4 linked regions of the Homo sapiens genome follow. The protein of the gene in region 1 interacts with the protein of each later gene in a pairwise test. Each region holds a gene or a part of one and is shown in the gene's direction. Other genes may lie near its edges.

Region 1 (7,024 bases):
GTCAGCTCAAGCTGCCACACAACAAAATATCACAGACTGGGTGGCTTAAACAACAGACATTTATATTTCAGAGTGCTGGGGGCTGGCAGTCTAGATGAGAGTGCCAGCGTGGTCAGGTTCTGGTGAGGGCTCTCTTCATGGCTTGCAGACAGCTGCCTTCTTAATACCACCGTTATGACCTCAATTAACCTTAATTAGCTCCCAAAGGTTTTATCTCCAGATACAGGCACATTGGGGCTCAGAGTTTCAATCTGTGAATTTGGAGGGACATACTTTGTCCATAGCAGAGCCCTGAGACTGAGCCCAGTCCCCTGGAGGTGAAAACCCTTTCTGGAAGGGCCACACTCCCCATCCACTACTGCCCTTCCTAGATCTCAGCTCCAGTGTCACCCCTTCTGGGCAAGGTCAGGCACCCCAGTGTGTAGCACATTGATCTGTGTGACCAAGGATGAATGGCCCTGTCTCCTGCTGGACTGTGAGCTCCAGAGGCAGGGCTACTTTGTCACCATTGTGGCCTGCCCAGGCAGGGACCTGGCAAATATTTATTGAGTAGTTGTTGGGAAGTCATGGAAACCGTGTGCTGTGCCCTTGGGTCTCACCAGAAGATCTGCTCAGGCCCAGGGCCAGGACTAGGCACTGTCCTGGCCAGGAAGGTCCCAGCTGCCCTGTGGCCTCCTGCCCTTGTCCCCCACACCCTCAGGGGTGCTGATATGCTGAATTTTAAGGAGAGATGATTCTCATATGGTTTTCTGCCCTTGGGGAGTTTATAGTCAAGTGGGACTTAGTTTCCTCAGAGGTAAGCTTAAGGGCACTGTGGCCGGGGTGGGGCAGGAGAGGGACATCTTCTCTAGCCTGGAGAAGTGAGTAGCTGAGGGTGGAGGAAGAGGGTATTCCAGGCAGGGTGCACAGCTTGGGCAAAGGCCTCGCTGCAGTAGAGGAGGACCAGGCAGTGTGTTTGAGCCTGACTTAGGTGGGGATTTGGTGGGGACTAGAACCATTAGGTGGTTTAGAGACCTCAATCCTCGACTCCATCCCACCCCTGCTTCAGCCAGCAGGTGACCCTGCTAGGGACCTGCCAGCGAGAGACCCGTTTCCTCTGAGTCCAGTCATGCTAGCTCCCTTCCTGGGGCTAGCGTGGGTGAGGGCTTCTTGCAGGGGCCCACATAGTTTTTCTCCTGAGTCCATTGGGCAGGATTGGGCCGGATTGGGCCAATCACAGAGGGATGGAGGGGTTCCCAGAGATGGGTCTGCTCTGGCCCACACTGCAGCTCACCCCTGTCCACTCTGTGCGGGGGCCACTGGGGAACTAGACGAACAGCATTCAGGTCACTGTGGCTCACAGACCCGTCGCCCCACTCCGCTCGTCCCCAGCAGCATGGAGGGAGGGAGAGCTCCCGTGCGCTAATTGGCTGAGCTATTTGGACCAATTGCTAATCAAAGGCTCCAAAGCCCTGGGTGCTGTGGTGCTGGGCTCTGAAGCTGAGGTTCACAAGGTATGGGGGACCTCAGTCTGAGCATCAGGTTGGCTCTCATTCTCAGGAGGGGACCTGGGCCACCTTCCCAACCCCCACATCTCTGTTGCCTCCTATTATCCCCGTAACCTTTCAGTCTCCATTGCCAAATGGGGGGGTTCAAGACCAGCCTGGACAACATAGTGAGACCCTGTCTTTAAAAAAAAAAAAATTACCTGTGGCCGGTGCTGGGTGCTTGGTAAGGTCACCTTGAAGCAGTCCTGTGCCCGTTCTGCACTGTTTTGTTTGTTTGTTTGGTTGGCTGGTTGGTTGGTTGGTTTTGGTGGGGTAGTGGGGTCGGGGGATGTGGTTTTTTGTTTTTGCTTTTTTTGTTTTAGAGACAGGGTCTCGCTCTATGACCCAGGCTGAAATATAGTGGCACAATCATCACTCACTGCAGCCTCTAACTTTTTGGCTCAAGTGATCCTCCCACCTGAGCCTCCCAAGTAGCTGGGACTACAGGTGCAAGCCACCAAGCCCCACTAATTTTAAAATTTTTTGTAGAGATAGGGGTCTCACTATGTTGCCCAGACTGGTCTTGAACCCCTGGCTTCAGGGGCTCCTCCTGCTTCTGCCTCTCAGAGTGCTGTGATTACAGGCGTGAGCCACCGTGCCCAGCCTCTCTGCACTGTTCTTTAACACATTTACAAATATTTACTGAGCATCTATTTCATTCTAAAGAACTAATCTTGAATAAAACCAGCCAGAATGTTTGCCTTCATTGAGCTGACAGTGCCCTTGGAGGGGTTAACTGTACATACACCTCTTTTTTCTTTTCTTTTTTTTTTTTTTTTTTGAGATGGAGTATCACTCTGTTGCCCAGGCTGGAGTGTAGTGACTCGATCTCAGCTCACTGCAACCTCCACCTCCCAAGTTCAAGTGATTCTCGTGCCTCAGCCTCCTGAGTAGCTGGAACTACAGATGTGCACCACCACACCCGGCTAATTTTTGTATTTTTAGTAGAGACGGGGTTTCACCATGTTGGCCAAGCTGGTCTTGACCTCCTGACCTCAGGTGATCTGCCCGCCTCAGCCTCCCAATGTGCTGGGATTACAGGCGTGAGCCACCGCGCCTGGCCTGTACATATAACTCTTAAAATGCTGCCCTGACCCTGGGGCTCACTTTCAAAGATGTCCACACTCTGTAGGCCAGGACCCCACCTGTCCCATACCCTTCCTGGCAGCCCTGTCCCTGCTACATCGCCCTTCAGCTACACCAGCTTTCTTTGGGTCCCTGGACCACACCTGATACCTTCCCGCCCAGAAGTGTTATCTCTGTCCTGGCAGTTGCTCAACCTTTTATGGTCCCTACCACCAAGGCCATCTGCTTGGTTGACATACCCACCCCAACTGTAATTAAATCATCCCCGGTGTCTCCTCACTAGACAGCTCCACATAAGCACAGCTGGTCCTTTTAGGGCTGTGTCCCCAGCACCTCCCACAAAGGAGGATGCAGTTCATCAGGATGGGTTGGATGAACAGCCCATTTTACAGATGAATAAACTGAGGCACAGGCAGGTGCAGGATTTTGGCAGCACTGCACACCTGTCCTGGCTTTGTCCTCCTCCCTGGGGAATGAGCTTGGAGCACCCCTCTAGGAACTGGGATGCCAGCCTCTTCCCTTGACCATCTTGGTCCTTGTCATGTGGGCCCCAGTACCAGGGGTGGCTTTAATTTGGCTGCCCAGGGAGGTGGTTCAGGGCTGCCAGGACCCCTGAAGTAGGCTCTCTGGGCTCTGTCCTTTGCCCCCCAACATGGTGCCTGTTTCTCCTGCCTCTTCATGCAGAGTGGCCAGCTCCTGGCCCATTCAGCTCTGAGTTTGAGCTCCTGGGCGGAGATTTTTGTTGCCTTGTAACTGGGATTCCTAGATCCAGCCTCCACCCTCTGATTGCCCTAAGGAGGTTTTGGGGTTTTGTTTTGTTTTGTTTGTGTTTTCGTAGGATGGTGGCAGTGATTTTGAGGAGGGGAAGAGGAAGGAAGATACAAGCAAGGGAAGTCACAGGCTGTGGTGCCTAGGCAGACCCTGGTTTGAATCTTGGCCTTACCACTTTTTGCATGTAAGTGGTAGGGGCAGCAGATAGCTCAGGACATATCTTGGGTTTTTTTGTTTGTTTTTGTTTTGAGACATAGTCTCACTCTGTTGCCCAGGCTAGAGTGCAATGGCACAATCTTGACTCACTGCAACCTCCACCCTCCCGGGTTCAAGTGATTCTCCTGCCTCAGCCTCCCGAGTAGCTGGGATTACAGGCACCGGCCACCACACCCAGCTAATTTTTGTATTTTTAATAAAGATGGAGTTTCACCGTGTTTGCCAGGCTGGTCTCGAACTCCCGACCTCAGGTGATCCACCTGACTCGGCCTCCCAAAGTGCTGGGATTGGCCAGGTGTGGTGGCTCATGCCTGTAATCCTACACTTTGGGAGGCCAAGGCAGGTGGATCATTTGAGGTCAGTAGTTCAAGACCAGCCTGGCCTATGTGGTGAAACCGCATCTCTACTACAAGTACAAAAATTAGCCGGACATGGTGGCACACGCCTGTAGGCCCAGCTACTCAGGAGGCTGAGAATCACTTGACCCTGGGAGGCGGAGGTTGCAGTGAGCCGAGATGGCACCACTGCACTCCAGCCTGGGTAACAGAGCAAGACTCTGTCTTAAAAAAAAAAAAAAAAAAAAAAGTGCTGGGATTACAGGCTTGAGTCATCCCGCCCTTCAGGACATATCTTTTGAATTTTGAACCTGGTGAATGAATTTTTAGATGACCTCAGGACAGTCCTCAATTTCCACATGACCTCAGTTTTTCCAGCTTTGCAAGGGGAGTATGAAACCAGCCCTGAAGTCTTGCTAAGAGGATTCGGGGAGCTCATAGAAGTTGTGAGTTGGTTCCTCCATTCGCCTGGGTGTTGTAAGGGGCAGGGCCTGTGTCTTGCTTGTGGCCTGCCAGGGTAGCAGCTCAGTAAGTGAGATGGTATCTCACTGTGGTTAGGATTCACATTTCCCTGATGACTAGTAATGTTTCCGTGTAATTTCTTGAATGATCATTCAGTAACAATAAGTGTAGGTTGAGTTTGTAGAATCAGGTTGACCTCCTCAGCCTCGATTTCCAAATGGAGAAAGCAGAGATTTGGAGCTCCTGGTCAGAGGAGCAGGTCGGTGCTGGAGCCAGGACTCAACCTTAGGTTGTACCTCTGAGCCTTTGAACACTTGCCGTTTCTATTCCTCACAGCAGCCCTTTCAGACGGAACGGGTGTTACCAGATTAGGAGGAGAGTGGCCACTGTATTCTCAGTGCCCAGCCCAGGGAGGCAGATCTGAGTGGAGTTGCTAATGAAACATGGAAGGTGCTTGAGAGCTAACTGGAAGGGAGGGAAGGTGTGCATTCCTGCACCAGGGCCTTTGCATGTACTTGTTACTTTCTCCTGCTGGCCAGCTGGAGTGTCTGGAAAGATCTGCCTTACTCAGGGAAGCCTTCTCACTCGCACTCTGCCCAGTTAGGACCACTGCCCTCTAGAGACCCTATAGAATTACAGAGGAGGCCGGGCGTGATAGCTCACACCTGGAATCCCAGCACTCCAGCCTGGGCGACAGAGTGAGACTCCATCTCAAAAAAAAAAAAGAAAAAAGAATAAACCCCACACACCTTTGCCTTCCCTTTGCTTTCCCTCACCACACCCCCATTCTCCCCGCCTCCCAGCCCCTGGCAACCACTAATCTGCCTCCTGTCTGCGTGGATTTGCCTGTCCTGGACATTTCCTATAAATGGATCATACAATCTGTGGTCCTTTTGTTTGGCCTCTTTCTGTTGGAATAATCTTTTCCAGGGACATCCATGTTGTAGCATGTGTCAGAATTTCCTTTCTTTTTATAGCTGAATAATATCCCATTGTATGGACTGACCATGTTTAGTTGGCCCATCCATCCGCAGATGGACGTTTGGATTGTTTCCACCTTTGGGCTATTGTGAATAATGCTGCTGTGAACGTTTGTTTACAGGTTTTCAATGCAGGCAAATGTTTTCGTTTTTCCTGGGCATAAATTCCAGGAGTGGAATCGCTGGGTCATATGGTAACTCTCTTTAACCGTTTGAGGAACCGTCAGACTGTTCTCCATGGTGGCTGTGCCATTTGACATTCCCACAAGCAGTGGAAATGGGTTCTGGATTTCTCATCCTCACCAACTTTTTTGATTCCAGCCATCCTAGTGGGTGTGAGATGGTGTCTCATTGTGGTTAGGATTTGCATTTCCCTGATGATGTTTTCTTCTAATTTCCCTGATGACTAGAGATGTTTTCATGTAAGTTATTTATTTATTTATTTATTTTTGAGACAGTGTCTCTGTCTGTATCCCAGGCTGGAGTATAGTGGCGCAATCACAGCTCACTGCAGCCTTGACCTGGGCTCAACAACAGATCCACCCCCCACCACACCCTCCCTAGTAGCTGGGACCACAGGTGTGCTCCACCATGCCGGGGTAATTTTTGTATTTTTCGTAAGAGGCAGGGTTTCACCATGCTGCCCAGGCTGGTCTCAATCTCCTAGGCTCAAGTGATCCACACGCCTTGCCCTCCCAAAGTGCTGGGATTACAGGCATGAGCCACTGCACCCAGCCTCATGCAATTTCTTTTTCCTTTTTTTTTTTTGAGACAGTCTTACTCTATGCCCCAGGCTGAAGTGCAGTGCCACAATCTCGGCTCACTGCAACCTCTGTCTCCTGGGTTCAAGTAATTATCTGGCTTCAGCCTCCCTAGTAGCTGGGACTACATACCCACACCACCTTACCTGGCTAATTTTTGTATTTTTGGTAGACAGGGTTTTGCCACGTTGGCCAAGCTGGTCTCGAACTCCTGGCCTCAAGTGATCCGCCTGCCTCAGCCTCCCAAAGTGCTGAGATTACATGAGTGAGCCACTGCGCCTGACCTCATGTAATTTCTTGAGTGGTCATTTAGTCATTATACAAACAGTGATTGAAGGGCATGTGCCCAGCACTGCAGACTCTGCTGCACAGTCAGATGACCCTGCCTTTCTGGCATTTCCATGCCAGTACCCTGAAGAGATACCATATATGTACCTGGTGCTTGCAATAGCTGGCACTCAGAGGTAGCACACTGTGTCCTAGCCACTCTTCCGAGCACTTAAGCATATTCAGTTACTCTTCAAGTACATATGAATAAGTATGCCTTTGCCCCCTCCTCTTTGCAAGGGATAGCGTGTGGCCACCCTGGTCTGCAGCTAGCTTAGCAGATTTGACCACATATTGTAAAAGTGAGTCTGTACCAGGACAGATAGGGTAGAGGGCTCTGTGTGGTTTAGCACCATGGTAGATTCCATCGTGCGGATGTCCCTCCAGCAGGGGAGGTCTTTGGGGCCAGGGCTAGGCCAGCACCCACATTTGCCGCCTGACCCCGTCCCTCCGTCTCTGTCTCTCCATTCCTCCCTGCCCCTCGTGCAGCCGCTGCCATGGCCCAGACACTGCAGATGGAGATCCCGAACTTCGGCAACAGCATCCTGGAGTGCCTCAAT
Region 2 (7,024 bases), on another chromosome or scaffold:
GAAGTGTCCAAACTCAGGGTGCTGGCTGGAGTTCCCCAGCATCTACGGGCTCAAGTACCATTACCAGCGGTGCCAAGGGGTAAGGGACTGTGGGTCGGGGGAGAGGAGGCCTCGGGGTGTGTTTGGGCAGAGGCCCTTGGGGCCCTGTCCCAAACCTTCCCTTCCCTGCCCAGGGTGCCATCTCAGATCGCCTGGCCTTCCCCTGCCCCTTCTGCGAGGCCGCATTCACCTCTAAGACCCAGCTGGAGAAACACCGGATCTGGAACCACATGGACCGACCCCTGCCTGCCTCCAAGCCTGGGCCCATCAGCAGGCCGGTCACCATCAGCCGGCCTGTTGGGGTCAGCAAGCCCATCGGAGTGAGCAAACCTGTCACTATTGGCAAACCTGTGGGTGTCAGCAAACCCATTGGCATCAGCAAGCCAGTCTCGGTCGGCAGACCCATGCCAGTCACCAAGGCCATCCCGGTCACTAGGCCCGTGCCAGTCACCAAACCTGTCACAGTCAGCAGGCCCATGCCCGTCACCAAGGCCATGCCGGTCACCAAACCCATCACAGTCACCAAGTCTGTGCCGGTCACCAAACCCGTACCTGTCACCAAACCCATTACGGTAACAAAGCTTGTGACAGTTACGAAACCCGTGCCGGTCACCAAGCCAGTGACAGTCAGCAGGCCCATTGTGGTCAGCAAGCCGGTGACAGTCAGCAGGCCCATTGCTATCAGCAGACACACACCGCCCTGCAAAATGGTGCTGCTGACCAGGTCGGAGAACAAAGCACCTCGTGCCACAGGGAGGAACAGTGGTAAGAAAAGGTATGGGGGCTCGTCCCAGGTCGGGGAGGAACAGTGGTAAGAAAAGGTATGGGGGCTCGTCCCAGGTCAGGGAGGAACAGTGGTAAGAAAAGGTATGGGGGCTCGTCCCAGGTCGGGGAACAGTGGTGAGAAAAGGTATGGGGGCTCGTCCCAGGTCGGGGAGGAACAGTGGTGAGAAAAGGTATGGGGGCTCGTCCCAGGTCAGGGAACAGTGGTAAGAAAAGGTATGGGGGCTCGTCCCAGGTCAGGGAACAGTGGTGAGAAAAGGTATGGGGGCTCGTCCCAGGTCGGGGAACAGTGGTAAGAAAAGGTATGGGGGCTCGTCCCAGGTCGGGGAGGAACAGTGGTAAGAAAAGGTATGGGGGCTCGTCCCAGGTCGGGGAGGAACAGTGGTAAGAAAAGGTATGGGGGCTCGTCCCAGGTCGGGGAGGAACAGTGGTAAGAAAAGGTATGGGGGCTCGTCCCAGGTCAGGGAACAGTGGTGAGAAAAGGTATGGGGGCTCGTCCCAGGTCGGGGAGGAACAGTGGTGAGAAAAGGTATGGGGGCTCGTCCCAGGTTGGGGAGGAACAGTGGTGAGAAAAGGTATGGGGGCTCGTCCCAGGTCGGGGAGGAACAGTGGTAAGAAAAGGTATGGGGGCTCGTCCCAGGTCGGGGAACAGTGGTAAGAAAAGGTATGGGGGCTCGTCCCAGGTCGGGGAACAGTGGTGAGAAAAGGTATGGGGGCTCGTCCCAGGTCAGGGAACAGTGGTGAGAAAAGGTATGGGGGCTCGTCCCAGGTCGGGGAACAGTGGTGAGAAAAGGTATGGGGGCTCGTCCCAGGTCGGGGAACAGTGGTGAGAAAAGGTATGGGGGCTCGTCCCAGGTCGGGGAACAGTGGTGAGAAAAGGTATGGGGGCTCGTCCCAGGTCGGGGAACAGTGGTGAGAAAAGGTATGGGGGCTCGTCCCAGGTCGGGGAACAGTGGTGAGAAAAGGTATGGGGGCTCGTTCCAGGTCAGGGAACAGTGGTGAGAAAAGGTATGGGGGCTCGTCCCAGGTCGGGGAACAGTGGTGAGAAAAGGTATGGGGGCTCGTCCCAGGTCGGGGAGGAACAGTGGTGAGAAAAGGTATGGGGGCTCGTCCCAGGTCAGGGAACAGTGGTGAGAAAAGGTATGGGGGCTCGTCCCAGGTCGGGGAACAGTGGTGAGAAAAGGTATGGGGGCTCGTCCCAGGTCAGGGAACAGTGGTGAGAAAAGGTATGGGGGCTCGTCCCAGGTCAGGGAACAGTGGTAAGAAAAGGTATGGGGGCTTGTCCCAGGTCGGGGAACAGTGGTGAGAAAAGGTATGGGGGCTCGTTCCAGGTCAGGGTGCTCCTCGGCCACGGCCTGGGGGTAATGGGGCCCACAGTTAGGCCCTCCTGGCCCTCACCTCACCTGCTCCCTGCAGGGCTGCGGACAGCCTGGACACCTGCCCAATTCCACCCAAGCAGGCCAGGCCAGAGAATGGGGAGTACGGCCCCTCCTCCATGGGCCAGAGCTCGGCCTTCCAGCTGAGTGCAGACACCAGCAGTGGCTCCTTGTCGCCAGGCAGCAGGCCGTCAGGGGGCATGGAGGCACTGAAGGCTGCAGGCCCTGCGTCCCCGCCTGAGGAGGACCCGGAGCGCACAAAGCACAGTAAGATGAGAGCTCCAGGGGTGGCGGCCGGGGCAGGCTCGGCCTCCTGACGGTTATTTCACCAGAATCTTGGCCCCCGTTTTCTCTCCCCGAGTCAGGAAGGAAACAGAAAACACCCAAAAAGTTTACAGGGGAGCAGCCATCCATCTCAGGGACCTTTGGGCTCAAAGGTAAGACCCCAGCCCGGTGTGCACCTCCAGGGCTGGGGCTGTCCACCGAGTGACAGCCCCTGAGCCCATCCCTGTTTCTCTCCACCCCATGTGTGCACACAGGCCTGGTCAAAGCTGAGGACAAGGCCCGAGTTCACCGCTCCAAGAAGCAGGAGGGGCCAGGCCCTGAGGACGCCCGGAAGAAGGTGCCAGCTGCCCCCATCACTGTCAGCAAGGAGGCACCGGCCCCTGTGGCCCACCCAGCTCCAGGTAGGGGCTGCCTGGCAGGGGCTCAGGGCAGCTCTAGACGGCGGGTAGATCCCACAGCACAGGGATGGGGGCTGAGTGTGGAGACTGGATTCTGTGCCTGGCGTCTGGGCCACCCAGCAGCCCCCACAAGCCTTCGAGGCCCCTGCCTTACCCACAGGTGGCCCTGAAGAGCAGTGGCAGAGGGCCATCCATGAGCGCGGGGAAGCCGTCTGCCCCACCTGCAACGTGGTCACCCGGAAGACTCTCGTGGGGCTTAAGAAGCACATGGAGGTGTGTCAGAAGGTAAGGCAGCTCCCGGAAGGCGCTGGGAGGGAGGCGCCCTGGCCCCAGGCAGGCTTCTCACATGTGGGCCATCTGCAGCTTCAGGATGCACTCAAGTGCCAGCACTGCCGGAAGCAGTTCAAGTCCAAAGCCGGCCTCAACTACCACACTATGGCCGAGCACAGTGCCAAGGTACCGTCGGGCCCCCAGCTCCCGTCCAGCGTGACCTCTGACCTCGCACCCCACCTTCACCGCAGTGCCCCCGGTTTCTAACCTCGGACAACGGTGGCCCAACACCTGGGCGGGGCGGGGCCAGGGCAGGGCTCCGTGGCGATGGTGCCGGGTCACCGATGCTCACCCTGTCCCCAGCCCTCTGACGCCGAGGCCTCCGAAGGGGGCGAGCAGGAGGAGCGCGAGAGGCTGCGCAAGGTGCTGAAGCAGATGGGACGGCTGCGCTGCCCCCAGGAGGTCAGTGGGGGGCCGCGGCAGTGTGGGGTGGGGGGGCCCTGCTGGCCACTCACCCACCCTCTGGCCTGACCCCCAGGGTTGCGGGGCTGCCTTCTCCAGCCTCATGGGCTACCAGTACCACCAGCGGCGCTGCGGGAAGCCGCCCTGCGAGGTGGACAGCCCCTCCTTCCCCTGCACCCACTGTGGCAAGACGTACCGATCCAAGGCTGGCCACGACTACCACGTGCGCTCGGAGCACACGGCCCCCGTGAGTGGCTCTCTGTTCTGTGGCACAGTGCTTGTTCCTGTGTGCCGTGTGTGTTCCGTGTGCCTTGGGTGCCAACTGTATTTGTCCATGTACCGCCCAACGCGTGTGTTTCCCACCCCTCTCTGTAAGAGACGTGTGTCCTGGTGGGCGGGAGGGTGAAACCTCCGTGTTCCCTCGGGTTGCCTGCGTCAGCCATGTCCCCAGCACACTGGGAGGCCTGTGGGTCCACCGGCCTTAGGGTGGCCTCGCCGCGCGCTGACCTGACTCTTGCTCCCGCGGCTCACTCTAGCCTCCATGCCTTCCTGCCCTCCAGCCCCCTGAGGAGCCCACAGACAAGTCCCCTGAGGCTGAGGACCCGCTGGGTGTGGAGCGGACCCCAAGCGGGCGTGTCCGCCGCACGTCGGCCCAGGTGGCGGTGTTCCACCTGCAGGAGATAGCGGAGGACGAGCTGGCCCGCGACTGGACCAAGCGGCGCATGAAGGATGACCTTGTGCCCGAGACCGCACGGGTGAGCTGCCCCCCCCAGGGCTGTGGACAGCGCCGTGGCCTCTGCGTGGGGCATGCCTTGGCCTGAGACTTGGGACAGCCACTGCTGTGACCTGGGCCACCCGCTGCCCCCGCCATCTGCGGCGAGTGTCGCCTGCTGCCGAGGCGAGTGTTCTTAGAGCAGCTGGGGTGTCTTCTGGCCTCAGGCTCACCCTGGTGCTGTCGAATTCACAGCTCAACTACACTCGACCAGGGCTCCCCACGCTGAACCCCCAGCTGCTAGAGGCATGGAAGAATGAAGTGAAGGAGAAAGGCCACGTCAACTGTCCCAACGACGTGAGCGGAGGCAGCCGGGTGGGGGGCGTGGGGAGCCATACAGGGCCAGAGCCTGGGTGTGGCCCTCTGAGCAGGAACAGAGGCTGAGAGCTTTCAGGAGGTGCCCAAGCCCACCCCAGGCCTCACATGCCCAGCCTGCCCAGTCCCCAGGACTCACACCCCCTCACTTGCCCCAAAGAGCCTCAGAGATCCCCTGGGGTAGGGCAGGGGTATATCTTGGTGTGGGGTGCCCACCAGAGGCCTTCGCCCACGGCTCCCTTCCCTGCAGTGCTGTGAAGCCATCTACTCCAGCGTGTCCGGACTCAAGGCTCATCTCGCCAGCTGCAGTAAGGTCAGTTCTGGGGCCTGCCCCACGGCCAGGTGCGCTGCACTCAGAGCTCCCAGCTCACCCCACGCGGGCTTCCCACACAGTAGTGAGGGACCCTGCCTTGTCCCCTACTTTTTCTACGTGGCCTCCTCTTCCACGAACCCAGAGACTGGCCGGTGGCTGATGGCCAGCCTAGGACACCTCCCTCGCCCCAACCCCAGCCACAAGACAACGAGTCCTAGTCCTGTCCTTGGAGCTCTGCGTCCATGTAGGCATGGGTGGGCACCCCGACCCACGCAGATGGCACACTGGCTTACAATAAGGGATGCTCGGCAAAGGTCTGCAACTCTTCCCCTGGGCACCTGCCTCTCCCTACCCTTCCTCTCCCCTACCACCCCTGCCGCCCTGGTAACTCAGTGGCCCCCTGCATTGTCTGGCACAGACAGCCACAGCTTTCCTTGGGCCACCGCTGACTCTGACCCTTTAGCCATGAGTAGGGGCTTAGGACAGATCTGGGTCCTCCAAGGGCTGGGGCACTGGCCTGCCTATGCATTGCAGGGGGCCCACCTGGCAGGGAAGTACCGCTGTCTGCTGTGTCCGAAGGAGTTCAGTTCTGAGAGTGGCGTCAAATACCACATCCTGAAGACCCACGCAGAGGTGCGAGGGCCATCACCAGGGCCTGTGGCTGGGGGCTAGCCCAGGAGGGGACAGGGCTGGGGTTGGGCACCCCTTGGGGGTAGAGAGGTCAGTGGCCTGCATGGGGTGTGCCTGGGAGAGTGGCCAATGTGGAGAAATCTGGTAGTTTCTCCTCAAAGTGGGGTCTGGCTTCCCTGGGAGAACTGGGAGGCTTGCACCCTGAGCTGGAGCTGCCCTCGGGGTGTCCGCCTTTCCAGCCCCCAGCAGCCCTGCTGCAGGTGCTTGCCTGGTCCCGAAGGCTGTGTCCAGCCCTGCTGCAGGTGCTTGCCTGGTCCCGAAGGCTGTGTCCAGCCCCCTGCAGGTGCTTGCCTGGTCCCGAAGGCTGTGTCCAGCCCCCTGCTGCAGGTGCTTGCCTGGTCCTGAAGGCTGTGTCCAGCCCCCTGCTGCAGGTGCTTGCCTGGTCCTGAAGGCTGTGTCCAGCTCCCTGCAGGTGCTTGCCTGGTCCTGAAGGCTGTGTCCAGCCCTGCTGCAGGTGCTTGCCTGGTCCTGAAGGCTGTGTCCAGCCCTGCTGCAGGTGCTTGCCTGGTCCCGAAGGCTGTGTCCAGCCCCCTGCAGGTGCTTGCCTGGTCCCGAAGGCTGTGTCCAGCCCCCTGCTGCAGGTGCCTGCCTGGTCCCGAAGGCTGTGTCCAGCCCTGCGGCAGGTGCCTGCCTGGTCCTGAAGGCTGTGTCCAGCCCTGCGGCAGGTGCCTGCCTGGTCCTGAAGGCTGTGTCCAGCCCTGCGGCAGGTGCCTGCCTGGTCCTGAAGGCTGTGTCCAGCCCTGCGGCAGGTGCCTGCCTGGTCCTGAAGGCTGTGTCCAGCCCCCTGCTGCAGGTGCTTGCCTGGTCCAGAAGGCTGTGTCCAGCCCTGCTGCAGGTGCTTGCCTGGTCCCGAAGGCTGTGTCCAGCCCTGCTGCAGGTGCTTGCCTGGTCCCGAAGGCTGTGTCCAGCCCCCTGCAGGTGCTTGCCTGGTCCCGAAGGCTGTGTTCAGCCCCCTGCTGCAGGTGCCTGCCTGGTCCTAAAGGCTGTGTCCAGCCCTGCTGCAGGTGCTTGCCTGGTCCTGAAGGCTGACAGGTCTTCAGCTCTCAGGCTATGCCTGGCTCAGGTGCTCAGCATCCAGTCCCAGGTCTTCATCAGCGCTTTTCTCTCCCCAGAACTGGTTCCGAACATCAGCAGACCCACCTCCCAAACACAGGAGCCAGGACTCATTGGTGCCCAAGAAGGAAAAGAAGAAAAATCTGGCAGGTGGAAAGAAGCGGGGCCGAAAGCCCAAGGAGCGGACCCCAGAGGAGCCTGTGGCCAAGCTGCCCCCGCGCCGGGACGACTGGCCTCCAGGATGCAGAGACAAGGGGGCCCGGGGCTC
Region 3 (7,024 bases), on another chromosome or scaffold:
AAAGTTTCTTCATGCCCATTAACACTAACTCCTACTCACATCCCCAGCCCTAGGCAACCACTGATCTTTCTGTCTCTATAGATTTGCATTTTTTGGACCTTGGATCTAAATGGCATCATACAATATGTAATGTTTTGCATCTGGCTTCTTTTAGTTAGCATAATGTTTCTGAGGCTCATCTGTATCTGTATTGTAGCATGTATCAACAGTTTGATCCTTTTTATTGCTGAATAATATTCTATTGCATGGCTCTATCAAATTTCTTTAGTCATTCAACAGCTGATGGATGTTTGGATTGTTTCCAGATTTTGCTATTATAAATAATGCTGCCATGAATATTTGTAGACAAGTTTTCTTTATGGCATATGCTTTCATTTCTCTTGTGTAGATTCCTGGGAGTGAAATTGCTGGGTTGAACAATCAGTTTATGTTTATCTTTTTAAGAAACAACTAAACTGTTTTCCAAAGCAATGTGCTGTTTTACACTCTCAGAAGCAACGTATGAGGCTTCTGGTTTCTCTACATCATCACCAACATTCAGTAGTGATGGCTTTTTATTATAGTCATTCTAGTAAGTCTAACTGCATAACAAATGACCCCAAAACTTAGTGGCTTAAAATCAAACATTTATTCCACAATTTCTGTGGGTCCAGAATCCAAGTGTCCTAGGTCCTCTGGCTTTCAGATTTCAAACAAAGCTACAATCAAGGTGTTGTCTGTGGCTGTAGTCATCTCAGGTTGATTAGGGGTCAGGGGGAGAATCTGCTTTCAAACTCACTCAAGCGGTTGTTGGTAGGATTCAGTTCCGTATGGGCTGTTGTACTGAGGGCCTCAGTTCCTCACTGACTGTGGGCTGAAAGCCTCCCTCAGTTCTTTGCCACGTGGGCTTCACCATAGGGTGGCTCACAACAGGGCAGCTGGCTTCCATCAGAGTGACCAATTTGAGAGGGCAAGAAAGTATGAGCAAGACTGAAGCCAGAGTCTTTTTGTAACCTAATCTAGAAATGACAGCCCATTACTTAGAGTCTGTCTACCACATTTGTTGCGGTTTTAATTTGCATTTCCTTAATGACTAATGATGTCGAGCATCTTTTTGTGTGCATATTAGCCATTCACATATGCTCCTTGATGAAATAACTGCTCAAGTTTTTGCCCGTTTAAGAAATTACATTGTTTACCTAATTATTGAGTCATAAGAGTTTGTTACATATTCTGGAAACAAGTTCTTTATTTGATATTTGATGTGCCAATTATATTTTCTATTGCTGTGCTAAAAAATTACCACAAGCTTAGCAGTTTAAATCATCCGAAATTATTTTCTTACAGTTGTGTAGACTAGAAGTATTGTAGAGGTCTCCCTGGGCTAAAATCCAGGTGTCAGCTGGTGCACTCTTTTCTGGAGGCTCTAGGGGAGAAACTGTTTCCTGCTTATTTGGGTTGTTGGCAGAACTCAGTACTTTGCATTGTGGGATCAGAGTCCCCATGTTCTTGCTTGCAAACTTGCGACCTTGTAAACCTTAAAGGTCAATCCCAGCTTCTAGAGAACACTGCATTCTTTAGTTCTTGGTCTCCTTTCCTCATATTCAAAGCTACATCAGTGCCAACAGGTCGAGTCCTTTGCATGTTGCATTTCTCTAACCCTTCTTCCTTGTTGAATCCCCCTCACCACAGTCAGGAAAGATTCTCTGCTTTTAAGGACTCATATGATTAGATTGCACTCAATCAGATAACACAGGGTAATATCCCCATCTCAATGTCTAATTTTTTTTTTTTTTTGAAATGGGGTCTCACTCTGTCACCCAGGCTGCAGTGCAGTGGCACGACCTTGGCTCACTCACTGCAACCTCTCAGGCTCAAACGATTCTCCCACTTCAGCCTCCAGAGTAGCTGGGACCACAGGGGTGCGCCACCATGCCCGGCTAATTTTTTGTATTTTTGGTAGAGACAGAGTTTCACCACGTTGCCCAGGTTGGTCTCAACCTCCTGAGCTCAAAGCAATCTGCCCACCTCGGCCTCCCAGAGTACTGGAATTACAGGCGTGGGCTACTGTGCCCAGCCAAGGTCTTTAATCTTACTCTCACCTATACATCTCTTTACCATGTGAGGTTATACATTCACAGATTCTAGGAATTAAGACATGAACATTTGGTGGGGGGGGTGTTATTCTGACTACCACACAAGTATTTTCTTCTAGTTTATGGCTTGTCATTTCATTTTTTTTTTTCTGTTTTTTTTGGAGACAGAGTCTCGCTCTGTCACCCTGGCTGGAGTGCAATGGCATGATCTCGGCTCACTGCAACCTCCACCTCTCAGGTTCTAGCAATTTTCCTGCCTCAGCTTCCCGAGTAGCTGGGATTACAGGTGCACACCACCATGTCCAGCTAATTTTTTGTATTTTAGTAGAGATGGGGTTTCACCATGTTGCCCAGGCTGGTCTCGAACTCCTGAGCTCAGACAATCCACCCGCCTCGGCCTCCCAAAGTGCTAGGATTACAGGCGTGAGCCACTGCACCTGGCTGTCATTTCATTTTCTTATTGATATCCTTTGAAGAACAAAAGTCTTTAATTTTTATGAAGTCTGATTTCTTGTTTCTTTTGTATGTCATGCTTTTGGTGTTGTATCTAAGAATACTTTGCCTAACCCCAAGGTCCTGAAAATTTTTTTATATTTTCTTCTAGGAATTTTTATAGTATTAGTTCTTCAATTTAGATTTGTGATCTGTTTTCAGTTGATTTTTATATATGGTGCTAGGTAAGGACCTAAATTTTTTTTTTTTTTTATTGTTTTTGGCATGTGGATATCCAATTATCCCACTACGATTTGTTGAAAGATTCTCCTTTTGAGGATTTTTTTCTGAACGATTATTATCTAAAGTGTGTTGTTGCTTTAGGGTCACAGTATGCTTGTGTGCATCTGTTACCATGTCACTGTGGTCCTTCGCTGAGTGCCCTTAGGGGACTAGAATCTTTCCAATAAACCACGTTTGAGATCGTATGAGTCAGCGTGCAGTGTAGCCCACACTTGAGAGTGTGGATTTATGTGCACAGTCACTTTGCTCTGGGTGGAAGTAGGTTATAGTTGACTTACTTTCTCGGTGCTTGTTCCTACAGCCCCTCTTTTCATGTGTTGCTCAATCTCCCTATCCCTTCTTGGTGCTTGCACATCTCAGACCCTTTAGCCAGACCCTTTAGCCAAACCCTTGCCAATAACAGTATTTTTGTTCTCAGTTCTGTTCCCTCTGGTTGCGGAGACTTTGAATAAAAATGCACACACCTATTCAGTGGGATTTAGCTGGAAAAGGTGACCTTCCAACCTCACGTCAACTTCTGGCTCCTCAAACAGTAGGTTGGCAGTAAGGCAGGAAAGTTGTTTTCCCATTTCTCACTGAGCAGATTGTGAATATTTCCATATGGATTTTCTGTTGTTAATGTTGCTCCGATTCTTTGTTTTAAAATAAAAATTCTGAATGTGAAAAAAAGAGACTCTCCTTTCTTCCATTGAATTGTTTGGACACCTATGTTGAAAATCATTGGCTATAATTGTAAGAGTTTATTTGTGAACTCTCGATTCTCTTCCATTGATATATATACCTATCCTTGCATCAATACCACGCTGTCTCCTTTTCTAGGTATTTTAAAGTTTTTGTTACTATTAGGAACGGAGTTAAGGTTATTTTGAATCTAAAATATTCACTCAATAATAGACACTAGAGTCTCTACTACAGGGGAAGGGAGGGAGGATGGCAAAGGTTGAAAAACCAACTTCTGGGTACTATGCTCACTACTGGGGTGGCAGGATTATTCATATCCCAAGCCTCAGCATCGTGTGATATACCCATGTAACAAACCTGCACATGTATGCCCTCAATCTAAAATAAAAGCTGAAATAATTTTTAAAAATTAATAAATAAAATATTAACTCAGAACCGTTTTCCTTAGACTCATTAATATTTAATATATTAATATTAATTACAGATTAAATATTAATCTATTGATTAATTTAATTAATTAATCATTAATCTATTATAAAATTGTCTTGGTCTTGGATTAAAAAGAAAATACAACTTTTATGCCTAAACTAGGTAACCTAAAATTGCTTTGAGTCTACTAAATTCTATCTTGTAGGACTGTGTTGCAAAGATATCAGAGATGTTAGTGTACATATGTTTAGTGTACATTAAATGTCTTAATGAATAGCTTTTAGTTTGTGCTTTGAATTTGAACAGGTTATTGTTATTACTATATATTCACATTCCCTTTGTACAAGTAACATTTCCAAAGCTCTGATCCTTCTTATTCCTTTCAGATCAACCTCTAGAATCCCGTAGACTCTGCAACAAGCCAATTCAGAGCTTGCCCAACATGGACAGCATTTTTAGTGAGGCCCTCTTGAAGATGCGGAGGCAGCACCCTGGGTGTCTTGCACAGGAGGCTTGTGTCCGTGCAGTCCAGGCTGCTGTGCAGTATCCCTATGAAGTGGGCATCAAGAAGGAGGAGGAGCTGTTTCTATATCTTTTGCAATCAGGGCAGGCTAGAGCCCTGCAATATGCTTTCTTCGCTGAAAGGAAAGCAAATAAGTGGTCAACTCCCTCCGGAGCATCGTGGAAAACAGCATCAGCGCGGCCTGTCTCCTCAGTTGGTGTTGTTGGTAAGACCATGGGGTAATGAATGGAATCCTCCAAATCTGCTCATGTAATGTGCTACCATTTGCTTAGGGCTACCGGATGCTAGGTTTCACGTAAGACACATTACTTGTGTTAGCTAAGCTAATTCTCACACCACCCCATGAGCTCTCTTCTTTAACATGAGAGGCCTAGAGACGCCAGCCTTCTCAATGGTGAGCTAAACACGAGTAGGGTGAAAGTCTGACCCTAGGTCTGACTCCAGACTGGGAATGTTTTATTCTTTTTTTTTTTTTTTTTTTTTTTTTTGAGACAGAGTCTTGTTCTGTCACCCAGGCAGGAGTGGAGTGGCTCAATCTCGGTTCACTGCAACCTCCACCTCCCAGGTTCAAGTGATTCTCTTTCCTCAGCCTCCTGAGTAGCTGTGACTACTGCCACCATGCCCAGATAATTTTTGTATTTTTAGTAGAGACAGGGCTTCGCCATGTTGGTCAGGCTGGTCTCGAACTCCTGGCCTCAAGTGATCCACCTGCCTTAGCGTCCCAAATTTCTGAGATTACAGGTGTGAGCCACCATTCCTGGCCTAGCATTTTTTATTCTATGCTACCTCTTCCCTGTATGAATCTCTCATTCCTGGATTTCCTGATGATGATGATTTGTACCACATTTCAAGGTGTGGCCTGTCACTCTCATAGCTGGGTATTTGCAATCAAGTCTCTGTCTTTCCGTCCCCCGATCCATTCACTTCACCTGTTCAAAACCACTATCCTCAAATCCATCTTAACCCTGAAACCATGGCTTCCTTACTTTTTTTCCCTCTGGAATTTTCCCAAACAAAATATCTTCCTTCCTCAGATGCTAGCTCCCTGATTGGCTTCTCTGGGCCACTTTCCTAAGCTTCACTTGCTCTTAGTCTCGGCTCAAGAACGGTCTTTGGTGGATTTTAAATCCCTTGAGATGGTAAGTGAAGCATTCTTTGCACCAGCTTAGGTACAATCTTCTGGGGAGAGGGTCCATAGTTTACTAAAAGCATCAACTTTCTTTCTTTTCTTTTTTTCTTATATTTAAGTTTTTTTAATCATAATTAAAGACATGCAGGAAAGTTATAATAGTACAAAAAATTCTCATATACTTTTTATCCAGATCCTCCAAATGTTAACGTTTTACTATATTTGTTTTATTTCCCTCTCTCTTTTCTGAACCCTAAGAAAAAGTTACAGACTTATGTGTATTTCCTAAAATTAATATTCTCATACATGACCACAGTATAATTTATTTTAAAAAACAGGGCAATTAATATAAAGAACTATTATTTAGTCTATAGCCCTTATTCTGATTTTTCTTTCTTTTTTCTTTTTTTTTAACCATCTTTACGATTTGTAAGTATACAGTTCAGTAGTAATAAATATATTTATATCCTTTTTTTTCCCTTCATCTCCCATCCCCCCCTCCCCTTCCTGGCCTTTGGCAACCACCAATCTACCCTGTATCATTATGAGATCTACATTTTAAGCTCCCACATATGAGTGAGAACATATGATATTTGCCTTTTTGTGTAAAAGCATCAACTTTCTTAACCCTTGCCCAGCTGTCTAGCACAGTGGTCTCCAACCTTTTGGCACCAGGGACCAGTTTCACGGAATACAATTTTTCACGGATTGGGGGATGATGGTTTTGGGATGAAACTGTTCTACCTCAGATCATCAGGCATTAAATTCTCAGAAGGAGCATGCAACCTAGATCCCTCACATGCGCAGTTCACAATAGGGTTCGCGCTCCTGTGAGAGTCTAATACCACCACTGATCCGACAGGAGGCGGAGGTCAAGGCTGAAATGCTCCCTAGCCTGTTGCTTACCTCCTGCTGTGCTAACAGGTCACGGACTGGTACCGGTCCACAGCCAGAGGTTGGCGACCCCTGCTGTAGCACCAACCCAACTTGGAGGCAAAGATCTCACTCCACATTTTCTCAGTCTGTTTGTTCTCTCAATTCAACTTTGGTATCAAAGAATCTGTCTCTAATATAAATACATTGTGCTCCTTTCAGCTCTGACTCTGTTGAGGTCTACCCTTGATTCGCTTGGGATTTTTTTTTTTTTTTTTTTGATATGGAGTTTCGCTCTGTCACCCAGGCTGGAGTGCAGTGGCGCAATCTCAGCTCACCACAACCTCCGCCTCCCAGGTTCCAGCAATTCTCGTGCTTCAGCCTCCCAAGTAGCTGGGATTACAGGTGCTGCGCCACCAAGCCTGGCTGATTTTTGTATTTTTAGTAGAGACAGGGTTTCACTATGTTGTCCAGGCTGGTCTTGAACCTCTGACCTCAGGTGATCCGCCCACCTTGGCCTCCCAAAGTGCTGGAGTTACAGGCGTGAGCCTTTGTGCCCAGCCTCACTTGTGATTTTTT
Region 4 (7,024 bases), on another chromosome or scaffold:
GAGTATTTCTGTAAGACAGGTTCCTAGGCTGGGAGTGCCTGAGTCAAAGAGCACAGTCATGTGTTGCATAAGGACAGTTCAGTCAAAGATGAACCACATATACAACCGTGGTCCCATAAGATTGTCATATACTGTATTTTTACCATACCTTTTCTATGTTTAGGTAAGTTTATATGCACAAATACTTACCATCCTGCTCTGGTTGCCTACAGTATTTGGTACAGTGCCTGCTGTACAGATTCACTGGCCAGGAGCTATAGGCCACACCCTACAGCCTAGGTGTGTAGTTGGCAGTACCATCTAAGGTTGTTAAGTAATATTCTGTGATGTTTGCACGATGACAAAAGTCATGTAAGGACACATTTCTCAGAACATACCCCCTTCGTTAAGCAACACATGACTGTCTTTGCATTGAAAATTTTGATAGATACTAACTCGCCCTTCACAAGGGTAAAAACAGTTTGCACTCTCAACAGCCATGCTCCCACCTTCTTGCTGACATTACATCTTATTCTCTGTAATGTTTGCCAATCTGATGGGGGGCGGAAAGGACCACAGTGTCAAGTGTATTTTTGGATCATAGTTTTCAAGCATATTTTTAGTACCATTTATAATTTTTTTATATGTCAATATAAAATATTTAGAAAATATTTTCTACTGGATGTTACAAATTAATCTTTATTATCTTTTCTCAGGACTTACAAAGTACCCAAGCATCTAGTCTGGAACTGACAGAGATAAGTAGAGAAAATGTAAATATTAAATCTTTTAATGAGCCACTGGTTTAAAAATGTTGTTTTAGCTGCCATGTTAATGAAATGGCAAGAAGGCTGGGTTTTTGAAAATTATGCTTTTAGAACGCAAGTAATCACTTGAAAATTGAGATACATACTTGTGGTGCCAGGCACGCAGTAAGTTTTTGCTGATGATTCACCTGTCAGTTTCTGTAACTGCCACTCACTGTTCTTATGTAAAAAGCACTCTCTCACTCTTAACTGCTGAATAGTACTGTTCTGGGGTATTTCCAAATATTGAACATCAGCCAGTGCACTGGCAAATGAACTTCCATGTGTATCTTCAACCCCTGGGAGAATAACTGCAATTTAAAAATGCGCTGTTATTAATGGAGAAAGTGAGGTCTTACCGACTGGCACGTTCACACCTCACAGACAGAACAGAATCTTAGCATTCTGGGGGCACCCTGGAAAGGACAACTAAGACACGTTTGAAGTTCATGTAGTGCTGGGTGAAGGTGGTGGCTCAGGCCTGTAGTCCCAGCGCTTTGGCTGAGGTGGGGGGATTGCTTGAGCCTAGGAGTTTGAGATCAGCCTGGGCCACATAGGGAGAACCCCATCTCTACAAAAAATTAAAAAATTATCTGGGCATGGTGGCGCATGGCTGTGATCCCAGCTTTGGGTGGCTGAAGTAGGCGGATGACTTGAGCCCAGGAGGTTGAGGCTGCAGTGAGCCATGATTGAGCCACTGCATCCCAGTGTGGATGACAGAGTAAGACCCTGTCTCTTAAAAAAATTTCATATAGTTCTATGAAAAATTATTAATTTATGGTGGAGGATAAAGGACTCAGATGAACAGGGATATCAGACTCTCTTCTCAACCCGTGTAGCCCTTCACAACACCATACCATTCCGTCATAAAGCACCAGCTGCCTGGAGGTCACACCAGAGTGGAGCAGGAACATCCCAGGCTCCGGCCAGGCTCAGCTCAGCACAACCAAGACTTCAGATTATAAACTATAATTCTTCCCCTTCTAACATTGTTGTGTTTTGTTTCTTTTCCAATAGGTTCCAAAGTCTGGCACGCCCCAGCTTGTGAGTATTTTTGCCTGGGTTATTTCATGTGGAATATTTTATAAAGTTGCATAGAAAATGAACAGTTTAAACCGTGGAGGGCAGCTTCATTCATTCCATTCCTTACTGTAGAACTGTTTCCCTACAGCCTAGTAATAGAGGAGGAGACATTTCTAAAATCGCACCCAGAACTGTCTACACCAAGAGCAAAGATTCGACTGTCAATCACACTTTGACTTGCACCAAAATACCACCTATGAACTATGTGTCAAAGGTTTGAAGAGCACCAAATTTTCTTAACTCTATATAAAAATTAAGTTGTAATGAGCTGTTACGAGTAACCTGTATCCACAATAGAGGCCCAAAGCAGCCCCCTCTGCATTTGTGTGCCGTCCCTGGACGGATTCGAGAGTCAACCAGGCCTGCCTCTGAGCCATTCCTGTGTATTTCCTCAGCACCTCCCTGCTTGGCTGCTTCCCCTTCAGGCAGAACACAGTACTGCCTCAGACCCCAGGCACAGGGGGCCTTCCTGGCGTGTTTCACTCATACAGAGGGCATCGGGTCCCACCCTGTCACTCATTTCATCGTCTAAAATGTAATCATGTGTGTTTGCTTCGAGCCAGGGACAGTGCTGCTGCAGGGGACCCAGCTGGGACCAAGGCAGACTGTCTCTCCCCTCCTGGGATTTACAGGGTCATGGCTCTGAAACATTCCGTAGTGTTCTTTGGACACGAGTTTTCCCTGGAGATCGCTTTCTGCAGGCCTCTTGGTCCTGACTGTGGCTTCTTTTCAGAGGCTGCCATTCGCTGCAAGGTTGAACACCCCCATGGGCCCTGGACGAACTGTCGTCGTTAAAGGAGAAGTGAATGCAAATGCCAAAAGGTCAGTATCCTTCGGTACCAGTCACAGTGCAGATACTTCCGTGCCTGTTACCGCCTTCCACCCGTGAACGGTCCTGTGAGCTGGAAGAAGGGCTAGCGTCAGAATCTTCATTTCCAAAGTGAGATGATTCAAGCAGGAGGTGGTTAGATTGTGAACAGCCAGTGGGCAGCAGAGCCGACTAAGGCCGTGTTCTGACCTCGGCTTTTTCTGGCCAGACAAGAGAGTAGCATTTTTGTCCACGAGGCCTATCCTTGCCTTGTAGAACTCCAGAGCAGCCCCGTAAGATCAGGCAACATCTTTTCTTTTTTTTTTTTGAGATGGAGCCTCACTGTGTCACCCAGGCTGGAGTGCAGTGTCACAATCCCAGCACACCACAACCTCCGCTTCCTGGGTGTTCAAGCCATTCTCCTACCTCAGCCTCTGGAGTAGCTGGGATTACAGGCGCACCACCACGCCCAGCTACTTTTTGAATTTTTGTATTTTTAGTAGAGACAGGGGTTCACCATGTTGGCCAGGCTGGTCTGGAACTCCTGACCTCAAGTGATCCGCCCACTTCGCCCTCCCAGTGCTGGGATTACAGGTGTGAGTCACCACGCCCAGCCCAGGCAACATTTTTTAGGGCCCCTCTTGTCATGTGATTTAGAAAATTTCTGCTTTAACAACTTTTTCCACAGACGTCCAGCCTTCTGAAAGCTTGAAATTAGAGCTATTTCCTAGAAAGTGGCATACTTTCAAGAAGGAAGGAACACGGGTAGATGATGAAAAGAGAATACCTGCTTGAGAGGATCCCAGGCTCCTGCAGCCTGAAGTAGTCATTCAGTTTAGCGTTAAACCTTCCATTTCTGTCCAACCACATCTCAGCCTCAACGCTGATTTTAAAGGGTTTTTTTTTTCGTATTTTTATTTTGCAAGTAACGAATTAGTGGAATGCTGACTGGGTTTAAAATTTCAACTTCACCTGCATTCCCATGTCCATGTGGATACGTGTGTTTCATAGAGTTAGAATCATAGTTCAAGTCTGGTCACTAACATTGCTGAAATTGCCACTACTCTGTCCTACTTGGTTAATTAAGGTTTTTTTTTTTCTTTCTTTCTCAAAAGCTTTAATGTTGACCTACTAGCAGGAAAATCAAAGGATATTGCTCTACACTTGAACCCACGCCTGAATATTAAAGCATTTGTAAGAAATTCTTTTCTTCAGGAGTCCTGGGGAGAAGAAGAGAGAAATATTACCTCTTTCCCATTTAGTCCTGGGATGTACTTTGAGGTGAGGTTACAGTTTTTGAAAATGGGACAGCAATAAGAATCCTGGGAGCAGGGGTGGGATAAGTGGTCCATTTAAATCAAGTCCTAACTCAGTATGTGGAAGTTGTGTATGTTTTTTGTTTACTTGGAGATTGTAATTTGCCCCTTTTTATAACGTGGGCAATCAGTATAAATGGCAAAGCCAGTAGAGTGTCAAATTATGCACATTGGAATTGACATTTGTCATCATATTAAAATTCCTGTGTAGCCCCATATTGATAGGAATTTAACCAGGAAGCTTGTCTCAGGACTGGAGTCACACATTTAATCATATAAGCAGACTTGAGGACGTGGAGACCCTAAAACTGCTTGCTTGCACTGGCCATCATCTCCCATCAGGGTAGACGGTTTCAGGTGGCAGTCCTTTCTCCTAAGGAGTTAGTCTTGTTTGTATGTATTCAAGGAAAAATACATCAGTCCCTTGGAACTAAAAGGCATGCAGTCCTGAGTCCCCAGATAGGTGAATATTGTAACACATACCTTTCCCGAAATATGTTTCTGGGATGCTGAGCAGAGAATAGTCTCCTTGTGATGCGGATGCCGGGTGTTTGGCCAGCCTCAATCACCAGCTCAGGTGCCACTGCCTCACACAGTCACTTAGGGTCATTGGTTTAGGTTATCATTCTACAGCATTTTAAACTGACACATTGTCTGGACCATGTGGGTTCTTGAGGACTCATCAAAACTCGTTACTAAAAGCATGAATATCAGGCGGAATAGATAGCAATGTGACATTCATATTTATCCCTAAGTTCCAGTCTAATGCAGTGCCCTGGTATGTGGAGTGTAGACAGATGTGGGCTAATCATGGAAGGTTCCCTGAAGTTGTGGATATTGGTTTGGAATTCAGAAAGCTGGGAAGGATGTGGAAGGCTGAAGGTTGGCTTTTCTAGATTTAGGGCATGATTTGAACAAGTCCTTAGAGGTGGGAAGGGCAGCACAGGGTTGTTAGCTTGGCAAGAGTCAAGGCGCAAAGGGTGACTTGGGGTTCACTGGAGGGAAACAGAGGTGAGTGCTCTAGAAGGAAGTTGAGCCTTGTGGTGGGTGACAGGAAACCAATGATGTAACTTGTTTTTGACCTATCTGGGCCCCAAGTTTGGATCTGCTATATTAATATAAAAAAGGATAATAATGATACATTCAAATAATGCTGAAAAATACTAAGATGAAAATACCTCCAACTTCATAATTCAAACCATACCATTAGGATTAGGTGAACCACATTCCAGGCATTTTTTTGCAGAGACAGTGAAAGGGATGGCTGGCTGAAGGAATGAATAGATGAATGTTATATGCTTTTGAACAATCGTCTTTTCCATTTAATTTTCTAATTCAGGAGCAGTAATTATCCTTGTGTTGATCACTGCTGACGATTTTCTATACTGATAGGTCCTTTCCGGGGGCTTCCATCTCTTGCCTTTTAAATATGCTTGCATTGAGATTATCTCAGGTCTTTCCATTATGCCATTACTTTCATTTTAAATCTTCTTGCTCTTTCAAATACACTTTAGTTGTATCTACAGTTTTTTAAAAACAATCTCATTCAGTGTTGTAATTTCATCTGTGGGCTCTTCCTCTGGATGAAATCCGTGTTCCAGCTGTTCGGCAGCATCAGATGGTTGTGAGGGATTCTGTTGTTCTGTTTTCTTCTAGGCAAAGGATGTGCCTTCTTTTCATTTGCAGTAGTCTGCTCACCCGGAAGCATGTCATTTCTTTGCCACTTGCTTGTAATTCACTGGCTTTGCACTTGCTCTGATACAGTACAGGTAACTAATTGACTCCCTCTGCTGCCAACTTGGTTTTCCTTCTGAGCTATAGCATCAGGCTGTGTGTTTTGTGTTTTCTTGAGATTTTGTTAAATATATCTGGGGTCCCTTCTACCTGGTTGGAACTGGGATTCCCACCATTCTTGTGGGGATAGAATCTCAGGTTACACCTATTTCCCCAATCCTCTGTAGCCACAGAAGCTTCATCTTGGCCAGCTGTTATCAGAGTGCAGGACTTGGGCTGAAATTTCCTCCCCTTCCTGATTTTCCTTGACAGTCCTTTCCACTGCTCCTATCAAAAGAATGGAAACCCTCAACTTGCTGCTTTGCAGATTCAGGTTTTGTGCTTCATTCTGGCCTCTCGGGGTGGGGCCGGGTTAGCAGCAAGGCTGAGCTGCCCCTCTTTCTTCTGAAGCCTTCATGGGGGCGAGGAGCACAGGGAGAGCTCAGTGCAGGGCCTCCCAGTGGCCTTCTCAGAGTGGGTGGAAACCCAGCCTGGCACTGGCAGCGTGGCACCAGAAGTATGAAGTGTAGGTGTAAAGGTGATGTAAAAGGCTAGTAGGTTTTTTGGTTTTTCATTGTTTGAGTTTTGGGCATAGATGACTGTGAAGGGCGAACACTGCCGATGGATCTGAATTTGTAGTATGTGCACCACTTCCAACTTACGGGATACCCAGCTTTGACGGCTTTGGACAAACACACTGAGGCCAAGATGTGCTGAGCTTATCAGGATCAGGATCACCAAGCAGCTGTAAAAACCCTAGCAAGTGCCTTAAGCTGCTGAAATTTCATATTAATTGTCTGGTTTGTTCATGGTCCTAGAGTTTGAGGCAGAAAAGTCAGTCAGGATCCAAGTCCCTTGGTTCCAGGCTACAGCTGGAAACAGCATCTCGGTGAACTAAAGCAACCATATTAGGAGTGAGTTTTCCTGCTTTAGGAGAGTCCCCAGCATCGGCGAGGAGGGGCAGCACTCTGGCTTTCCAGGAGCAAGGGGCAGGATGCGGCCGAGGGAGAGGGGCTGTGTTGAGGAAAGGAGGGCCGCAGGCCCTGGGGATGGTGTGAGGCTCCAAACATGTCCGAGTCACTTCCCTGGGTGGGATGAGGCAGACAGTGCCACCACCAGGGACACTTTAGTTAGATTAGGGTCTTGGAAGTCAGAAGGAAGTCAGCAGCAGCAGGCTGGAACTTTTCTATGTATAATCAAATGGTTTACTCTGACACCGTTAGCATGTAACAAACACAAAATTTTAAACTAAGGGGAAC

Evidence for each region.
Region 2: the proteins of NACC1 (region 1) and ZNF512B interact in binary tests that used the Homo sapiens proteins (3 or more experiments, as listed by UniProt).
Region 3: the proteins of NACC1 (region 1) and EHHADH interact in binary tests that used the Homo sapiens proteins (3 or more experiments, as listed by UniProt).
Region 4: the proteins of NACC1 (region 1) and LGALS8 interact in binary tests that used the Homo sapiens proteins (3 or more experiments, as listed by UniProt).

Annotation. Positions count from the first base shown.
Region 1 is NC_000019.10:13,128,247-13,135,270, forward strand, and holds part of NACC1 (nucleus accumbens-associated protein 1), read left to right. Parts: intron 1-6,953; 5' UTR 6,954-6,961; coding exon 6,962-7,024. UniProt on the Homo sapiens protein: Functions as a transcriptional repressor. Seems to function as a transcriptional corepressor in neuronal cells through recruitment of HDAC3 and HDAC4. Contributes to tumor progression, and tumor cell proliferation and survival.
Region 2 is NC_000020.11:63,959,931-63,966,954, reverse strand, and holds part of ZNF512B (zinc finger protein 512B), read left to right. Parts: coding exon 1-79; intron 80-173; coding exon 174-814; intron 815-946; exon of another isoform or gene 947-1,399; coding exon of another isoform or gene 1,400-1,443; intron 1,444-1,451; exon of another isoform or gene 1,452-2,050; coding exon of another isoform or gene 2,051-2,091; intron 2,092-2,238; coding exon 2,239-2,465; intron 2,466-2,559; coding exon of another isoform or gene 2,560-2,563; coding exon 2,564-2,635; intron 2,636-2,737; coding exon 2,738-2,884; intron 2,885-3,041; coding exon 3,042-3,166; intron 3,167-3,244; coding exon 3,245-3,337; intron 3,338-3,514; coding exon 3,515-3,613; intron 3,614-3,689; coding exon 3,690-3,860; intron 3,861-4,173; coding exon 4,174-4,368; intron 4,369-4,580; coding exon 4,581-4,682; intron 4,683-4,950; coding exon 4,951-5,013; intron 5,014-5,547; coding exon 5,548-5,646; intron 5,647-6,815; coding exon 6,816-7,024. UniProt on the Homo sapiens protein: Involved in transcriptional regulation by repressing gene expression. Associates with the nucleosome remodeling and histone deacetylase (NuRD) complex, which promotes transcriptional repression by histone deacetylation and nucleosome remodeling.
Region 3 is NC_000003.12:185,202,040-185,209,063, reverse strand, and holds part of EHHADH (peroxisomal bifunctional enzyme), read left to right. Parts: intron 1-4,306; coding exon 4,307-4,648; intron 4,649-7,024. UniProt on the Homo sapiens protein: Peroxisomal trifunctional enzyme possessing 2-enoyl-CoA hydratase, 3-hydroxyacyl-CoA dehydrogenase, and delta 3, delta 2-enoyl-CoA isomerase activities. Catalyzes two of the four reactions of the long chain fatty acids peroxisomal beta-oxidation pathway.
Region 4 is NC_000001.11:236,540,959-236,547,982, forward strand, and holds part of LGALS8 (galectin-8), read left to right. Parts: intron 1-695; coding exon 696-752; intron 753-1,802; coding exon 1,803-1,829; intron 1,830-1,956; coding exon of another isoform or gene 1,957-2,082; intron 2,083-2,601; coding exon 2,602-2,690; intron 2,691-3,791; coding exon 3,792-3,957; intron 3,958-4,203; coding exon of another isoform or gene 4,204-4,263; exon of another isoform or gene 4,264-7,003; intron 7,004-7,024.